3 linked regions of the Homo sapiens genome follow. The protein of the gene in region 1 interacts with the protein of each later gene in a pairwise test. Each region holds a gene or a part of one and is shown on either strand. Other genes may lie near its edges.

Region 1 (3,722 bases):
GGTGGAGGAGACTGATGGGACAAAGTCAATTAATGACTCATGCTTTGTGTTTCTTCAATGCTTTTAAAAGGGGGACTTATTTTCCTTACAGCTGTAACATTTGATTTCCTAAATATTTATTTATATTTAAAAAGTATTTGTATGTGTTAAGATATTTTGCCATTCAATACATTTTAAGAAGTTAACCTTATTTCACGTCCGCCCAATGAAAAAATATTTTGCTATACTATAGGAGAAACTTGAATCACTTAGAACTTGTCATTTAAAATATTTGTTTATGGAAGGGAAACCTCTTTTTCCTCTTGTTATCCCTCAGAGATCTTTTTAAATGGAATGTTTTACCTTTTTCAGCACATGTAAGTTATCTACTTGTGAGAAGGGAGCTGATTAACCTGTGATATTTTTGCTGAAGATTTGTATGTCATTAAATCAGCAGTATATGCTCAACACCTACTAATGATAGTAGTCACTAGGAGAGATAGAAAAGATTGAAAATATATCCCTGGAAAAATTAATAATGCCAAAAGATCTGTTCAAAAAAGGTTTTATCCAAAAAAGTTAATCAAGACAAGCAACAGATACTGCAAAGCATTATATACAGCACCATAGTCCAGGGGCCAAAGAAATCAGGAGGGGCTGGGCAGTAGAGGAATTCCATATATTAATGAATGTGAGATTAAGTATAGAGTGAAGACATTAACACACAATTCTAATTTCTGTTAGGCAGAATGCTCCCCTACCCTGATGCCACAGCCTTTCACGTTTCCTAAACCCTAGTAACCTCTGATCTCCATCTGCCTCATCAACACGTCACCACCCTTTGCTCTTCTTCCAATTAGTCACATGTTGGCTGAATTTATTTCACTCCAGTACTTTAGGACCTTGACAGACAAATCGATTACAAGGTCAATTCCCAGGATTTCTTCAGGGTGTGTTCAGGAGTGCAGATGTTCTTTGGATGACCTTTCTACTAAATTAGACCTCTGAAGGAGAAAGCTACTTGCCAGAGGCTTTCCCTGAGAGCATTAGGTTGGGCAAAATCTGACTAAAATTTAATTACTAAATGAAAGTGTGTACCTTAGAGTTCCTGGCCAGAGTTGACTCTAGGTAGTGATGTGATTTTCTTGGGATGTTTTTCTAAATATTCTTTTATGCTAAAGCACATGGCTTGATACTTCTGTTGATTAAGCTCGTGTCTACTTACAGTCATCTAGTGAGAACCTGTGGTGTGGTGAGATGATAACTTGGTCTTTGGTCTTCATCATTTGAACTAGTTTTGGTTTTGTCTTGTCCCTTCCTTGAGCATTTTGTGTGTGTTTAATCCTATTTGGTAAACGAACCACTGTGAAAGACCAAGTTGGAGAAAACAGAACACCCCCAAAACATTTATTTTTTTTTTTAGAAAATCATGGCTCACTATGGTAGTATACAATATTGTTTTCACACATGTACACTTGAAACCAAATTTCTAAAACTTGTTTTTCTTAAAAAATAGTTGTTGTAACATTAAACCATAACCTAATCAGTGTGTTCACTATGCTTCCACACTAGCCAGTCTTCTCACACTTCTTCTGGTTTCAAGTCTCAAGGCCTGACAGACAGAAGGGCTTGGAGATTTTTTTTCTTTACAATTCAGTCTTCAGCAACTTGAGAGCTTTCTTCATGTTGTCAAGCACTAATGGGGGATAAAAGCAGGAGAGTCAAGACACCATCGTGCGTTATATCGATATAATAAACCCCAAACTTGGATGCTCAATTCATTATTTAATGGGATGCTTTTTTTTTTGAGACAAGGTCTCACTCCCACTCAGGCTGGCATGCAGTGGTGCAATCTCCACTCAGTGCAACCTCTGCCTCCTGGGTTCAAGTGATTCTTCAGCCTTAGCCTCCTGAGTAGCTGGGATTAGAGGTGTGCTCCACCATGCCCAGCTAATTTTTGTATTTTTGGGAGAGATGGGGTTTTGGTATGCTGGCCAGGCTGGTCTCGAACTCCTGAGCTCAAGTGATCCACACACCTCGGCCTCCCAAAGTGCTGGGATTACAGGCGTGAGCCACTGTGCCCAGCCTGATAGGATGCTTTTTATCATGAGGTGAATAGTTGGTAATCTTATTGTAATTTAAAAAAATTATATGAAATGGCTTTTGTGACAATCTAGTTTTCTAGTGTAGTCATTCCTTCCCAGATCCTTCATCTCCAACCCTCACTTCCAAAAGAATCCTTTTATAAGCTCTAGCAGCAGAAGATAATTTTGGCTCATTTAGAAGTAAATTTAAATCATGTTTAAAAGAAATGTCTATTAGTAGGTGTGTGTAAATTGTTTTAGAAGTAGGGGAAATATAAATAATAGCAAACCAAGTGCTTTATGCAGATGAATTCTTTAATCCTCATACAAACACGATTAGAACTTTATATATACATAATGAAACAGGCAGAGAGAGGCTGAGTAGCTTGCTCAAGGTCACACAGCTAACAAGTAATGGAGCTACTGTTCCAGAGCCCAAACTCTGGGTCACTGTTTCTTCAACAGCAATTCATCAAAATGAGGTATGTGATCTACTAAAAATAAGATGTCCACTCGATAGGCATTGAACAGCCGCTTATTCACTCTTCCTACAAATCTTAATTATTAAGTGCCTGTTCTACAAGGGATTGTGATATTACTTGTGTAGGACACGTGCCTTTTAAGAGCTTAGTCTTATTAAAATGTATGGTATTATCTCAGTAATGGCTGACAGTACTTGGAATGTGCTTCCCCTGGTCCAGCACACACTGGAAACATTGCTAATGGACCATGATGATCTCTCCTGCTTCCTAGACACGGCCTCACTTCTCTTCCCAACATGACGTTCTAAGTCAGCACTGGCCAATAGAAATTTCTGTGATGATGGAAATGTTCAGTGTCCGGGCATTGAGCACTTGGAATATGGCTAGTGTGACTGAAGGAATGAATTTCTAACTTTAACTTAAGTAGCAACATGTGGCAAATGGTTAACATATTGGACAGTGCAGTTCTAGGCAGCCACTACTAATTGATCAGAGTTGGTTCCTAGGATAAAACCCACTTTTCTTCCCAGAGGACTAATCAGATGTCACAGCTAGCTACAGCGTTGCATTGAGGTACCTCATCTGCCTTAAGTCAGTGTCTCTCTCTCTCTCTGTCTCTCTTCCATTGATGGCAACCATAGGGAAGGTAATTTTCTTGGCAATCATTTGGATCATCTTTGAAACTGATCTTTAAACTGAACCTGAATTTAATTTTAAGCTGGACTGCACATTCTTTCACTTTTGTTATTTAAAAAATTAAGACATGCAGATTATTACAATTATTACACTCAGTTCTGTGATAGAAGGAGTGTGTGCTCGTGTACCTAACAGAAAACCTGAAAATCAGGTAATGTGGTCATAGAATCCTCCTAGAGAAAAAGATACCTAATCTAAATAATTCATCTTCAATTGAGATTAAAAACAAACAAACCTGAGATGGAAAGAGTGTGATTTGCCTGAAGATGCAAGGCTAGTTAGGGTCAAACTGAGTCCGAGGCGTCCCTAAGCCTAGCTCTCTCTCACCTCACCATGCAGCCTCTAGTCCCATCACTACAGCAATAGAGGTGTTCAACTCTTGGGCAACATCCGAATTGAAGGTCACACTTACACAGAGCTGTATCTGCAGGTTCGTAAGCATAGAGACGATTTGAATATCTTCCAGTGATATCGGCTCTAA
Region 2 (7,033 bases), on another chromosome or scaffold:
AAATTCACATTCTGGTTCAGTAGGCCTAGGGCGGGGCTGAGAGTCAGCATTTCTAACAAGCTCCCACCTAATACTACTGGTACTTGAATAGCAAGGCCCTATGAAATTAGAGCACAGACCATCAAAACCGAAAAAACAGAGCCTCTCACTCTGCTAGGAGAGAAGAACAAATAGCTCTAAGAGTTGAAGGAGGAAACATATTAGAAGCAGGGGAGAAAATGAAATGAGTGCTCAAGAATCTGGCTGGGGCCGGGCGCAGTGGCTCATGTCTGTAATCCCAGCACTTTAGGGAGGCCGAGGCAGGTGGATCACCTGAGCTCAGGAGTTTGAGACCAGCCTGGCCAACAAGGTGAAACCCCGTCTCTACTAAAAATACAAAAAAATCAGCCAGGCATGGTGGTGCACACCTATAATCCCAGCTACTTGGGAGGCTGAGACAGGAGAATCACTTGAACCCAGGAGGCAGAGGTTGCAGTGAGCCAAGATCATGCTATTGCACTCCAGCCTAGGGGACAGAGTGAGACCCTGTCTTCAAAAAAAAAAAAAAAAAAAGAAGAAGAAGAAGAAGAAAAAAAGAATCTGAACTCTCAAGCTAAAACACTGGTTAAAAACCAACTTACTTGATCATGTGGTTGGCATAAGCTCGAGAACAGCAGGTGCTATAGCGACACAGAGAGCAGTGTACGTAAGTAGGGAAATGATTAGGGAAGTCTGGGATCTCGAAGCTGCACTCCAGGCATGTCTGCCGGCCCATGACACTCCTGTGGGGGAAAAAAAAAAAGAATTCTCATTACTGCCTCATGGGTCCCCAAAATGTAGGATTTTCAGACAACAAACCCTGCTAAAAAGCTACCAGATTGCACTGTGTATCAGGAATAATCCTGGCCACCCAGTCCCCACCCGCCCAGCACTTAGAAGAAGGCGCTGACATTTTCCTAACAGCTCTCTTCTGGATGCTGCGCTGGACAGGGGGATAAAGGAAGACAGGCAGAGGGTCCATTGAGGAGGTCAGCGGTGCTGCCTCCTGCAAGGCGCTGGGAGGTGTATCATTAGAGGATACAGGAACAGTTCGTGGCTGCCCTCGGGAAGCCCGGATTGTCACCTGAGAACCAAGGGAAGTAACAATGAGACATCACCCACACTAAATTTCAGAATACTGAAAATCTCTATTCCTCCCTCCCTGGGCCTATAAAAGACACTGGCAAACTCTTTACCTTGGTGCCTGGTTTCAAGCCCTCCAGCTGCTTGGGTTTACGGAAGGTTTTATGGTGTTGAAGCTTGTGTTCAATTTTGTCCTTGGCAAAGAGAAACTGCAGCCGGCATTTGTTGCAGTGATAAACATTTCTCTTCTGAAGTGGGGGAGGGAAAAAAAGAGACAAAATCCCTTAAAGGTTCCTAATAAATTTTCTTTTTTGAGGAGAAAGCAGATCAATGTCAACCATATCATTCTTCCCACCTTTCTGTTGATAATTTAAGAGAGTAAGAAAGAAATATGCAACATGACCACAAAACCTACCATTGAGAATCATCACCTCCCATGATATCAAAGAAAGATGGATTCTAGTCCAGGATGACTAAGTTCTCAAATCATCCTTTCCTGACTTGTTTTAACAATTTGAATGAGTGATGTAACCTTTATTTGTATTATATCTTTACACTGCTGACAACTGGACATTCTTCTGGACATTCTTCATTCTTCTTTTTTTAAAAAAGGACAATGTACATAGTAAACTAAAGTCATACTTTTTTTTCTATACTCTTCCAACTTTGCTTTCAACTCCAACACTCAGTCCCCTTCCATACAAACAACTTATTACCAGTTTCCTGAGTATGCTTTCGTGGGCAGTCTACACATATAACTGTATCACAAATACATTCATATCCAATCATTACCTGCCTCGCCCCCTTTTTTTGAGACAGGGTCTCTCTCTGTAGCCCAGGCTGGAGTGCAGTGGCATGTTCATAGCTCACTGCACGTCCCAAGTAGCTGGGACTACAGGCACGTGCCACCACGCCCGGCTACTTTTTGTATTTTTTTGTAGAGACGGGGTGTCACCATGTTGCCCAGGCTGGTCTTCAACTCCTGGGTTCAAGTGATCTACCTGCCTTGGCCTCCCAAAGTGTTGGGATTACAGGCGTGCATCACTGTGCCTGGCCCTTACTTTTTTCCCTTTCCTTTTTGTAGAGATGTTGTCTCACCATGTTGCCCAGGCTGGACTCCACCTCCTGGGCTCAAGTGATCCTCCCACCTCAGCCCTCTTCTTTTTCTCCTTTTAACACAAATGATAGCACTTGTCTATACCTTGCTGTTTTCTCACTTAACACATCAGTATATACAGATATGTCTCCTGGTGAGACCACTTTGAGGATTCAGTCTGCCTAGTATTGAAGTCCTTCAAAAATAGAACCCATGTCTATGATTTTCTTTAGTAGGATAACAAAGCTCTGTAAGCTTAGGCTAAGAGACAATTTCCATGCCCCTATTTGGAAATACAGTTGTGGTAGACAATCAGCAGTCACTACTGTGCAAAGGAGACTATGAGTGTAATAGGGTACATATGTTTGTGTGCATATGTATGTGACTATTAAGCACACATGCACTCATCTTATTCTCCATTTTGAATCCTCTCTTATATACTATATACCTTTCACTCTCCTCTAGTGGCTCTCTTCTTGTAGTATTTTAAAACGAAGTCATAGCTTTTCATCTTATAAGGAAAATAAAAGCAATAAAAAACTCTTCTTTGCCACTTCTTCCTCTGGATTTACCTACCCTGGGTCCTCCCTTTTTATAAATAAACTTCTTTAAATACATCGTCTTCATTTCCTTACCTCTCATTCATTTGTTCTGCTGAAATGTGACTTCCACCCTACCAACCAACAAAATGGCTCTCATCAATGTTGCTAAATTAAAGGCCTGTTTCTAAGTCTCTATGTTGCTTGACACCTTCCTGTAACATATGACATTTTGATCACACCCTTTTCTTTAAAACACTTTCTTCTCCCCAGTTTCCTTAAGGTTAAGACTCTTCTGGTTTTCCTCCTAGTACTATGGTGGTTGCTTTATAGATAAGGGACTTCAAATATCCTAAGCCTTCTCTTATTCTCAACAGGGTTGGGGGGCCCATGGTATTTAAGTTTAAAATCTATAGGATTTATATAACGCTGATTCCTAAATCTTTTCTACAACCCAGAGTTCTCTCACAGGCTTGAGATCTATTATCCAACAGCTACACTTGACATCCACAGATACTGCTAACTTACAATATCCAAGCTCATGATCTCCCCCCTCACAAATATACTTTCTCTATTGTTTCTATTTCAGCAAATAGTTCCCTCATTCACCCAACTGCCCAAGACAGAATCTTAGGCACTATTCTTAACTACTGCATTGCTACCTTCACCTAATCCATCTCTACATCATAAATATCACAAATCTTCTGAATATCTCTCAACTCTACCCTCTTTTTATTTCAAAAGCCAATAGCCACTATCATCTCTCACCTAAACTACTGAAAAAGGCCTTCTAGCTAGTTTCCCTAACTGTAGTCTCAATCTCCTTTAATCCATTCTCTGCAGTGCAGGCAGTATAAAGCCTTAACTAAAGCTGAACACATCACTCCAGGGCTTAAAACCCCTTTAGTGGCTTCCCAGTGAATTCTTTTCATGGCTTAAAAGATCCTCCATGATCTGTCCCTGCCTAACTTCCAACCCCTCTGTCTCTTACACCCTACACTGAATCTCTCTCAATTTCTTGAACCTCCACAATTTTGCTTTGTGCCTTGGGCACACTGTTCTTCGTCTTATTTCATCTGGCTCATTCTTATTCATCCCTCAGGTATTGAACAACACTTCTTTCTGGAAGCCTTACTAGGCACCCAGAATAGCTATGTGATTTTCTATATCCTATAATTTCCCCAACACAGTACTCTTCATGTTTTATTGTATTGTTTGCCTTGTTTACTACTAAATCTCTAGCATCTAGACTAGTACATGGCACATTAAGTGAATTCAATAAATTTCTGCAAACATATGCATATTATAATCTCTGCCCAAATTATTTGCCTAGCTCAGCCCTGGCCCCAGCATCCATGTTTAAAAAAAAAAAAAACAAGAGAATATGGGAATTGCTTGGTGCCTAGTACCTGGTGCCTCATGTAATGCTGTTGGAATGCATTGCCATTTTTGAAGACCTTCAGGCAATAAGGGCAGAGCAGATGCCGGGTATCCTCATGGATCATCCGAAAATGGACATCTACCTCAGAGTAGAGTGAGGAGCGATATTGACACACCTGAGTCACATAGGAGGGAAAATAAGGCTAAGAATGAAGTGAACAACTGAGAGGCCTTAAAAAAAAAGGTAGCAACAAAAATTTTTAAATTAAAAAAAAAAAGTTTTCTCAAATGCATAGAAATCAAATTATTTTCCTGACTTTGTAATGCTGGGCTATGTTTGTGATAGGTTTAGCTATTACTTTAAAAATAGGAAGGGACAGAAAGTCTAAGAATAATCCATGTTCTCTAACTAAGAAAAATAAAGCCTTTTCTGTCAATTTCCAAAGGGCACGTTCAGGAGACAGACACTCCCTTAGAATATGCACATGTTCCCGGCTAGTCTACTTGTGGACATGTTCTTTTATGTTTTTCTCCTGCATGGAAACCCTGAAGATAAACTGTGTTTACTATTTCTTCTGTACCTACTCAGAGTTCCTAAACTGAGTGTATGCAGTAGGTGGTCAACAATATTCATTAGTAAATTCTTTGTATTCTTCCTGAGGGCAAAACTGCTAAAACTCCCTGGAGAAAAAGGCAATACCTGGCAAACATAAGGCATCTCTCCAGGCTTATGAGTATCCTTCATATGCTGGAGAAATAGTGGCTCACTTTCAAACGCCCATTCACAGATCTTGCACTTGGCTGTAAGAAGAAAAGTAATCAATAAATCCACTTGAAAATAAGACAAAAGTCCTGCTGACTCACAATCTTTATTTTCTCTGCCTCCTTTATTTTGATTTTCAACAATCAGTAAATCATAGGTCCCTTCTGTTCTTTCTTTAAATGGCTCCACCTTAACATATATGTTGCTGATAATCTTATGTACGTAGCTCAGACTTCTTACCAAAGCTTCATTCTAGATTTTATCTATAAGACATTTTAAATTGGTTATTCTATCGTCAACTCTAACCTAATTCAGCATCCTCCTGTCTTACCACTGTTTCCCTTTTTCCTTTCCCCATTTCTTCCTGAGCTCAAAATTTAGGCACTATCTCGGATTCCAAACCCTGCATTCTGTCACCATTATTTCAAACTGCATGTAGGAACTGTCACTTCTCTATACTTATAATAAGGCAAAAACTTGGTACTAGCCCATATGATTTCCCACTGCTAATCAGCTGGCCTCCAATACCTCCTACTCTCTTTGAAATTGTCCATTTTGTCAAGCTTATGAGAAAAAATTTTGACAAAATTTTATGACACAAATGAACAATTTTGTCAAACTTCTGAGACAATTTTTGGTAATTTCATGTTGGCCAGGTTGGTCTCGAACTCCTGACCTCAGGTGATCTACCTGTCCCAGCCTCCCAAAGTGCTGGGATTATAGGTGTGAGCCACCGTGCCTGGGCTTTTTTTTTTTTTTTTTTTTTTAAGAGACAGAATCTCACTGTTGCTCAGGCTGGAGCATGATCATAGCTCACCGCAGCCTCCTGAGTAGCTAGGACTATCCTTTGAGCTCAAGCGAGCCTCCTGTTTCAGCCTCCCAAGTAGCTAGGACTACAGTGGTGCACCACCATGCCCAAGTAATTAAAAAAAATTTTTTTTTGTAGGGACAGGGTCTCGCCATGTTGCCCAGGCTGGTCGGAAACTCCTGGCCTCAAGCAATCCTTTTGTCAATCCACTTCAGTCTCCCAAAGTGCTAGAATTACAGGTGTGAGCCAGTGCACCGGCCAATTTTGGTAAGACTTTTAACTGCTACATATTTTTAATTATACAGTATGGCAAAAAGAGAGAGATTATTTACATTTTTGTCACTTTAATGGAATTAGTTTCAAGTTTTTGCAAATATGAAAACTGGAAGCTTAAAGCCTTGGGCATTTACTGGACAATGTCTAACCTCCCCCCGCCCCCAGCCCCCTACACCCCAGCCAAAGAAATATGAATAAAGTTGAAATAATTCTTTTTTCTTTTTTTAACTACCGAGAACCCTGGATTTTTGTTTTGAGACAGAGTCTCGTTCTGTCTCGCACGCTAGAGCGCAGTGGCTCAATCATGGCTCACTGCAACCCTGACCTCCCAAGCTCAAGCAATCCTCCCATCTCAGCCTCCCAAAGTACCAGAATTACAGGTATGAGCCACTGTGCCTAGCCAAGTAATTTTTTAAAGTAAAACAAACAAACAAAAGCCAGGGGTTCTTAATCTGGGGTCTATGGAACAGGCCTCTAGGAATCCAGGCTTTCTCTGAAATTATTTGCAAAAGAGTAAAATGTAGATTTTTCTAGGAAGAGGATTCAAACATTTCATATTTATTCTCAAAGAGGTCTGCAACTCCATTTAGAAACACTGTCTACAGGTACATTAGGTGCTATGAGGACATGGATAAATAAGAAATTCTGCATAAAGGAATGAGGAAAAGCTATAACAACATATAAAAGCTGAATTGTCAAAGAATGGGGCTCAGCCAGCCAGAGAGAGGACCAAGAGAAAAGCAGGAGGAAAGGCAAGTAGGTATGAAAGTTAACCACATGTTTGGGAAACAGTTAACTAGCAACATAACGATATTATCTCTTTTCCACTCACCCCCCGATTTGTTTACCTCTCTCATTTTTCTCTTCTAGAACACCTTTAAGCAATATTTTGTCCAGGCCTTTCTTAGTCTATGTTTTCCCTGGGCAATCTCATTCACTCTTTCTCCTATAACCTATTTATCAGCTCTATTTTCACAGCTGTCATGCAACATCAATAATAAAAACACTTATTAAGCAATTTCTAATGTACAAGCATCAGGTTAAGATTTACATGTGTTGGCTGGGCACGG
Region 3 (7,388 bases), on another chromosome or scaffold:
CCGCCAAACTCGGCCTTCACTGCTTTGCGCAGACCCAGCTCGTCGGCCCCTCGGAGTAGGCTGTGAAGAAGGCGGAGGAGGTGGGCTCACAGGGAGGCCCCGGCCCACCATCCTGGAGCTGAGGATGGTGCACCTGGCAGCCTTTGGGACAAACGCAGGGCGGCTGGATAGCATGGTTGGCACTTGGTAGAGCGGGGAGTCGGGTGGCAGGCTCAGCGAGAGGCCAGGGACAGGGGACTCGCCTCTCATACGTGGCGGTGACAAAGAAGGCGTAGGCACGCGTGTGGCGGTGGTGGCGGACTTGCACGATGAGCTCGGGAATGCCCACGCGGATGTGGTTCAGCAGCCATAGCAGCGTGTGGTCATCGGTCGTGTCTGCCAAGGGGCACAGGGACCGATGGCTCCTGCCACGAGGGGGCCCAAGGCCTCCTACGTATTCCCGTTCTGGGAAGCCGAGCTCAGGAGAGCCGCATCTGGGCACTGGGCGGGCGGGCGGGCGGGCTTGGGTACCTGGGAAGGTCATCAGCACGTCGCAGTTCTCTGTAGGCACCGTCTTCATCCACGCCTTGTGGGACACCAGGTAGCGACCAGCCTGCAGGAGCCGCTTTCCGAAAAGCTTATCTAGGGGGCGGCGTAGCAGGCCCGGGTCAGGCCACTCTGGGATCCGGACCCGGCCTCCAGTCTTGGCTCCTCCTGCCCCCGCCAGGGCTCCTCACCACTCCACCTGGCATTCAAGGCCCCGGGAGCTCTGGGCTTGGCTTATTTTCCTCCCTCCACGTCCTTGTACCAGCCAGGCCTTCCTCCAGAAATGCCCTTCCCCCCAGATCCTCCCTTACAAATCTTACTCATTCTTGAGGCCCAGCTCCGCCTCCAAAACCACAATCGATGGGGCGCTCACTAGCAGCCCTGAGCGCTTCACCACATTATGACAGCGCCGTCCTTGCAGCAGCCCCAGGGACTAGGTGCGGTTCTTACCCCCATTTCACAGGTGAGGAAACTGAGGCCCAGAGCGTTTAAGTCACGCGCCCAAGGTCACACAGTCAAGCTGGGATTTGAACCCAGGACCGTATGATTCTGTATTCTTCGCGGAGAGGCTCTCTCAAGCACATCCCTGGCCCGCCGCGATCCCGCAGCCCGGGGGTGGCAGGGCGCAGCCCAAGCCTGGGGCTCTCGGAGGGGCGTGTCCGCGTCTCCGCGCCGGGACCCCAGCCCGAAGCACCGTCCCAGCCCCGCCCGCCGGGCCGCAGCCGCAGTGCCGGGAGGAGCCGGCCCCTCGTCCAGACACCACGCCAGGTTACGTTTGACCCTGATCCTCCTCCCCGTGTAGTTGACGCGGGCTCCCCAGGCACCTGCAACCCTGTCTGGTCCAGCCGCCGCACACATACCCAGAACTCCGGACGCCGGGGCTGCAGGCTCGCCCTCCGGCGGGGGCCTCTTGCCACGCTCGCCCTCCAGGGACGTGCCCCCGGCGCCGGAGGCGGCCTCGGCCATGGCGAGGACAGGTCAGGTCAGGGGCTACGGACGGCCCGGGCGACGGGGAGCCGCGGGCTCATGGGGCCGGTGCAGCCGCGGAGCGCGCGGGAGGAGGAGACAAAGGCCGCGCCCGCCCGCGCCGGCCTCGGTCCTCGCTCGCCCGAGCGCTGCTTCTCGTCCCCGCCCGAGCCGAACCTCGATTCTCCTTCCCGGCCCGATGCACGTCACTCTAGGGTTCTCAGCTGAGTTCGCCCGCCTAGTTCTTTGGTTCGCGTCTCCGCCCGTGTTGTTTTCTGGGTTTCCTTCTCGCCCGCCTACCTCGCTCCCTGCTGCTGGTCCCCGCCCGCACTGATGGTGCATTCTCCAACTTGTCCCCACCCATGCTTTCTTCTGGTCCCCGCCTCGGAGCCTCAGTTTCCCCATCTGCAAACTCCGGACCCTGGAGACGCTGTTTGGAATGTGAGATGGGCGTAAGTTGACTAAGGGAGGACGTGGGAGGGGCGGGCCGGTTGGGGAAGATTCCTGGTGACAATAACTTCAACCACCCCAGTAGGGCTGTGATACATAATTACAGCAAGCCCTGCTTAGGAACTTTGCACGCACCATTTGGCTGCCTAGAACACTCCTCATGCACTCTTCGTCCGGTTAACACCGACTCCCTTCAGGATGTAACCTCGGAGAGGATCCCATAGAGTTGTCAAGTTTAGCAAATAAAAATACAGTCCGTCTAGTTAAATGTAAATTTCAGATAAAAGAATAAATGTTAGCTGGGCGGGGCGCACCTGTAATCCCAGCTACTTGGGAGGCTGAGGCAGGAGAATCGCTTGTGCTCAGGAGGTCAAGGCTGCAGTGAGCTGAGATCACACCCACTGCACTGCATCCTGGGCGACAGAACGAGACCCTGTCTCAAATACATATATATACATACATACATAAATGTTTCTATGTCCTATGTCTACATGGGACATACTAGTACTAAAAAATTATTCATTGTTTATTTGAAATTCACATTTAGCTGGGCGACCTGGGTTTTACCTGGCATTTGGCCAACCCCTGACTATTCTGAGTAGCTCAGTCTGTTAGACTGAAAGCCCAGCGAGGGTAGGAACGAGGGGCCAGGTCTGGTTCTCAATGCGAGCACACAGTAGGCGCTTGCTGTACGCTTGTTACAGATGTAACAACTAGCTTGTTACAGATGTAATAACTAGCTTGTTACAGATGTAACAACTAGAGAATGGCAGATGAAATATAAATATGTCATCATTTGTTCCTATTTTACAACTTAAAATATTAAAGCCTCGGCCGGGCGCAGTGGCTCACGCCTGTAATCCCAGCATTTTGGGAGGCCAAGGCGGGTAGATCACCTGAGGCAAGGAGTTCGAGACCAGCCTGACCAACATGGCCAAACCCTGTCTCTATTAAAAATACAAAAAATTAGCCAGGCATGGTGGCGCACGCCTGTAGTCCCAGCTACTTGGGAGTCTGAGGCAGGAGAATCGCTTGAACCTGGGAGGCGGAGGTTGCAGTGAGTCTAGATCGCGCCACTGAACTCCAGCCTGGGCGACAGAGCGAGACCCCGTCTCAAAAAAAAAAAAAAAAAAAAAAAAAAGCTTGGGCAACGTAGTGAGATCCCCGTCTCCACCAAAAAAACGAAAACAAAACAAACAAACAAAAACAACAAACAAAAAGAAACACCGAAAAGTTAGACTGGCATGGTGGCTCGCGCCTGTGGTTCCAGCTACTCAGGAGGCTGAGGCGGGCGGATCCCTTGAGCCCAAAAGTTGGAGGTTGCAAGAGCCGTGATCGCGCCACTGCACTCCAGCCTGGGCGACAGAGTGAGACCCTGTCTCAAAAATAAAATAAAATAAAATAATAAAGTAAATAAAAATATTGAGCAGGGCGAGGTAAGGGGGTATTAGAACTCTATTCTGTCAGACAGATTTTTCTTAACACGCAAGTGCGCCGCCCGCCCGCTCTGATCCAGAACCAGAGAATCCGCCATGCGAAGGCGCTCCCGGAGACCCCGCCCAGCCAGTGCCTGGAATTCCACCATCAGCGCTTTATTCCGAGTTTCAGTGCTGTCCTGGGTTAACCTGAAAGCAATCTCCGAGGCTCCCCTTTCTGGCTTTCGGGGAGCCAGAGACTGACCGGACACTTGGCTCTGCAGGTGCAGACCTGGACCAGAGAGACAGAGAGCCAAGGAAGTCCACAGTGGAGAGAGGGCTGTGCTGGGGGTTCCAGGAAGACTTCCTGGAGGAGGGGATCTTGGAGCTAGGCCTTGAAGACGAGTTTGTCAAATGAGGAAGGGCATCCGAAGCCGAGGGAACGGCAGAAGGGAACGCTGGGGAGGGGAGAGAATCTGGAGAGTTCCGGAAAAAGCAAGTAGGACTCTTTCCAGAAGTTCGGGCAAGATTTTCCCTGGATCAGGGCGTGGGTTCTCCAGTACTCGTCCCTCCCGGTCACCGAGATGCTCTGAGTTTCCGGTCTGAACCTGAACGTAAAGAGGTGTAGTCCCTCCTTTCTTGAACGGGAAAACTGAACGCACATAGGTCCTTGCCACGCCTAAGGCTGCGGAGTGAGCAGATGGAAAATGCGGGACTCAAAACCTCCCCTCGCTGTAATTTGCACTGCCCTGTGCCAAACTCTGTCCTTTCTTCCATTCCTTATTCCTATTGTCAGCCTCGCTGCGCTAGGACCCTAAAAATTTGGTCTCATGTTGCCCGGGGAACAACATTTCGCTACACCTACCTCCATACCGCCTCCCGCTCCCGCTCTCCCTTGCACCAGCCAATGGAAGCGAGTATCTTCAGACGGTGGGCAGGACGTATCCTAAGATACCCAATGGTGGTCGAGAATAGTTGAGCACTTTACTAGTCAAGCCGCGGAGTGGGCGGGGCCCCCTGCCCAGACTTGAAGCCACACAGGCAGGTCGGGCAGGCGGGTCGCAGGTTGTAAATCCATGTGGCGGGGGCTTTGGACCCTGGCGGCCCAAGCGGCACGTGGGCCTCGCAGGTGGGGCTACAGGGGAAGGGGTGCGACAGCTTGGGGTGCTGCTTGGACCCCAGACCCACTCCCTGGGTTTTAGGGGCCCAATTCCCTGCGGCAGAGCAATCATTCGCGTTCTTCCGTGCCTCAATCGTTCATGACCCTTGCGGCAGAGCCCATATCTGGGTCTCCTTCTGGCCTCACAGTCCCTAATCCGGTCACCCTTCGGCCTTCAGAACATCCAATTTGTGCATCCCCCAGCCGCAGAACCCCCCCACCTGGAGCATCTCGCGATCATCGAGCCCTCGGTCTACTTGACACTGAGGCTGAGCCTCCCAGGTGCGCTGATTCGCCTCCCCTCCGGTTCCAGATTGTGCACGCGCCGGAGCAGCGGCGCACCAGCCCCCGGCTCCGGCGCCACCATCTTCGCGCTAAGCTCTGGCCAAGGCCGCTGCGGCATCGCAGTGATCCGGACCAGCGGCCCCGCCAGCGGCCACGCCCTCCGAATTCTCACAGCACCCCGAGACCTGCCCCTTGCTCGCCACGCCAGCCTGCGCCTGCTCAGCGATCCCCGCTCCGGGGAGCCTCTGGACCGCGCACTGGTGCTCTGGTTCCCAGGTGAGGGTCCCCAGGTTCCGAGCCTCCTGTAGGTCCCATGACTCAGTTTCCCCCTTCCAAGGGTTTGCACTGGCTGTGCTGTCCTCCTGTCACCTGTCTGTCACATTAGGTCCCCAGAGTTTCACCGGTGAGGACTGCGTGGAGTTCCACGTGCATGGAGGCCCGGCAGTGGTGAGCGGCGTCCTGCAGGCCTTGGGTGAGTTGCAGCGTTGGGTGAGATGCTTGGTCCTCCCAATGGGCCTGGGTGGGGACCAGGGGGTGTCAGACTGGGACCTTCCTGCAGGCAGCGTGCCAGGGCTTCGACCGGCGGAGGCAGGCGAGTTCACCAGACGGGCGTTCGCCAATGGGAAGCTGAACCTGACCGAAGTGGAGGGGCTGGCGGACCTTATCCACGCGGAAACAGAGGCGCAGCGGCGGCAGGCCCTCAGGCAGCTGGACGGAGAGCTGGGCCACCTCTGCCGTGGCTGGGCCGAGACCCTCACCAAAGCAAGTCCCCCATTTGTCCATTCTCTCCCTCAGAGACCCCATCTGTGCAACCCCTGCATGAGACCCCCTCTCAATCCCGCATTCATTCCCTGCGTGAAAGCTTCCGGCCTATGAGCCGCCATTCTGGCCCCTGAAGTCGGGCTGGACAAATTGGGTGTGGGAAGGTGGGTTTCTGGGTGCACACACCACCTCTGCTCTCCCTGCCCCGCCAGGCTCTGGCCCACGTGGAGGCCTATATCGATTTCGGCGAGGATGACAACCTGGAGGAGGGGGTCCTGGAGCAAGGTGGGTCTACCTGGTGGTGGGGGAGGAAGACACCTCATATCAGCCCTCAAAGGCTCCCCTCACTGTCTCTCTCTGCCTGCCTTCTCTCACCCACAGCCGACATCGAAGTACGGGCACTGCAGGTGGCCCTGGGTGCACATCTACGAGATGCCAGGCGCGGGCAGAGGCTCCGCTCAGGGGTGCACGTAGTGGTCACTGGACCCCCCAATGCGGGCAAGAGCAGCCTAGTGAACCTGCTCAGTGAGTAGGCGGCGGGAAGGGGGCGGGGCCTAGTGCCAGGGGCGGGGCCAAGAGCTGGGTTATTGAGTTAGTTGTTCAGGTCTAAAGCTCCCTCCAGACATGGGGTAGAACCTGGGGGAGGAGCTCCCTTGTCTCCACCCTCTCCTCTTCTTCTGACCCTCCCCCAGGTCGGAAGCCTGTGTCCATCGTGTCCCCGGAGCCAGGGACCACCCGTGACGTGCTGGAGACCCCAGTCGACCTGGCCGGATTTCCTGTGCTGCTGAGCGACACGGCTGGGTTGCGGGAGGGCGTGGGGCCCGTGGAGCAGGAGGGCGTGCGGCGCGCCCGGGAGAGGTGGGCGGACAGGGTGGTGATGGGAGGGGAACGCGGGGCCCTTTCTCTGCCTTTTCTCCCTGTTGCGTTTATTTTTCATTCTTCCTGAATCAGAGAACCTGCTAAGCCCTATCAAGCATGGATCTCAGGGATTTGGTTCTTTTTTTTTTTTTTTTTTTTTACTCCGAGACCGAGTCTTGCTCTGTCGCCCAGGCTGGAGTGCAGTGGCGGTATCTCAGCTCACTGCAAGCTCTGTCTTCCGGGTTCAAGCAAGTCTCCTGCCTCAGCCTCCCAAGTAGCTGGGATTACAGGCGGGAGCGACCACGCCGAACTATTTTTTTTTTTTTTTTGTATTTTTAGTAGAGATGAGGTTTCACTATGTTGGCCAGGTTGGTCTCTAACTCCTGAGCCTCGGCCTCCCAAAGTGTTGTGAGCCCACCGCACCTGGCCTGGTGTTTTGTTTTTGTTTTTGAGACGGAGTTTCGCTCTTGTTGCCCAGGCTGGAGTGTGCAGTGGTACAATCTCGGCTCACTGCAACCTCCGCCTCTCGGGTTCAAGTGATTCTTCTGCCTGGGCCTCCCGAGTAGCTGGGATTAGAGGCGCCCACCACAATGCCAGGCTAATTTTTTGTATTTTTAGTAGAGATGGGGGTTTCACCATGTTGGCCAGGCTGGTCTCGAACTCCTGATCTCAGGTGACCCGCCTGCCTCGGCCTCCCAAAGTGCTGGGATTACAGGCGTTAGCCACTGTGCCCGGCCAGTGATTTAGTTCTGATTAAGTCCTGCCCCCGGCCCTCCGGACATGTTTCTCATCCCTAAGCCCTCCGCCCAGCCCTCACGTTCTGCCCCGCCCTCTCGTGCTCTGTCCCGCCCTGGCACTCCGCTCTGCCCCTTGCGGTCTATCCCATCCCCTGTGCTCTGTCCACCCCCTACATTCTGCCCCACCCCTGGTGCTCTCTACCCCTTACCCTGTGGTGTGTCTGGTCCTTC

The links. Proteins that work in one complex are often made in the same cells at the same time.
Region 2: the proteins of AGR2 (region 1) and POGZ interact in binary tests that used the Homo sapiens proteins (3 or more experiments, as listed by UniProt).
Region 3: the proteins of AGR2 (region 1) and GTPBP3 interact in binary tests that used the Homo sapiens proteins (3 or more experiments, as listed by UniProt).

What each region holds. Positions count from the first base shown.
Region 1 is NC_000007.14:16,791,283-16,795,004, forward strand, and holds the end of AGR2 (anterior gradient protein 2 homolog precursor), read right to left. Parts: coding exon 3,654-3,722; intron 1,676-3,653; coding exon 1,626-1,675; 3' UTR 529-1,625; downstream 1-528. UniProt on the Homo sapiens protein: Required for MUC2 post-transcriptional synthesis and secretion. May play a role in the production of mucus by intestinal cells. Proto-oncogene that may play a role in cell migration, cell differentiation and cell growth. Promotes cell adhesion.
Region 2 is NC_000001.11:151,407,480-151,414,512, forward strand, and holds part of POGZ (pogo transposable element with ZNF domain), read right to left. Parts: intron 4,918-7,033; coding exon 4,817-4,917; intron 4,293-4,816; coding exon 4,146-4,292; intron 1,350-4,145; coding exon 1,215-1,349; intron 1,103-1,214; coding exon 930-1,102; intron 762-929; coding exon 621-761; intron 1-620. UniProt on the Homo sapiens protein: Plays a role in mitotic cell cycle progression and is involved in kinetochore assembly and mitotic sister chromatid cohesion.
Region 3 is NC_000019.10:17,333,180-17,340,567, forward strand, and holds the start of GTPBP3 (5-taurinomethyluridine-[tRNA] synthase subunit GTPB3, mitochondrial), read left to right. Parts: upstream 1-4,373; 5' UTR 4,374-4,432; coding exon 4,433-4,485; intron 4,486-4,828; coding exon 4,829-5,076; intron 5,077-5,185; coding exon 5,186-5,272; intron 5,273-5,359; coding exon 5,360-5,562; intron 5,563-5,774; coding exon 5,775-5,847; coding exon of another isoform or gene 5,848-5,943; coding exon 5,944-6,087; intron 6,088-6,254; coding exon 6,255-6,420; intron 6,421-7,388. Other genes in the region: ANO8 (anoctamin-8), read right to left, coding at 1-60, 243-375, 511-621, 1,386-1,491. UniProt on the Homo sapiens protein: GTPase component of the GTPBP3-MTO1 complex that catalyzes the 5-taurinomethyluridine (taum(5)U) modification at the 34th wobble position (U34) of mitochondrial tRNAs (mt-tRNAs), which plays a role in mt-tRNA decoding and mitochondrial translation.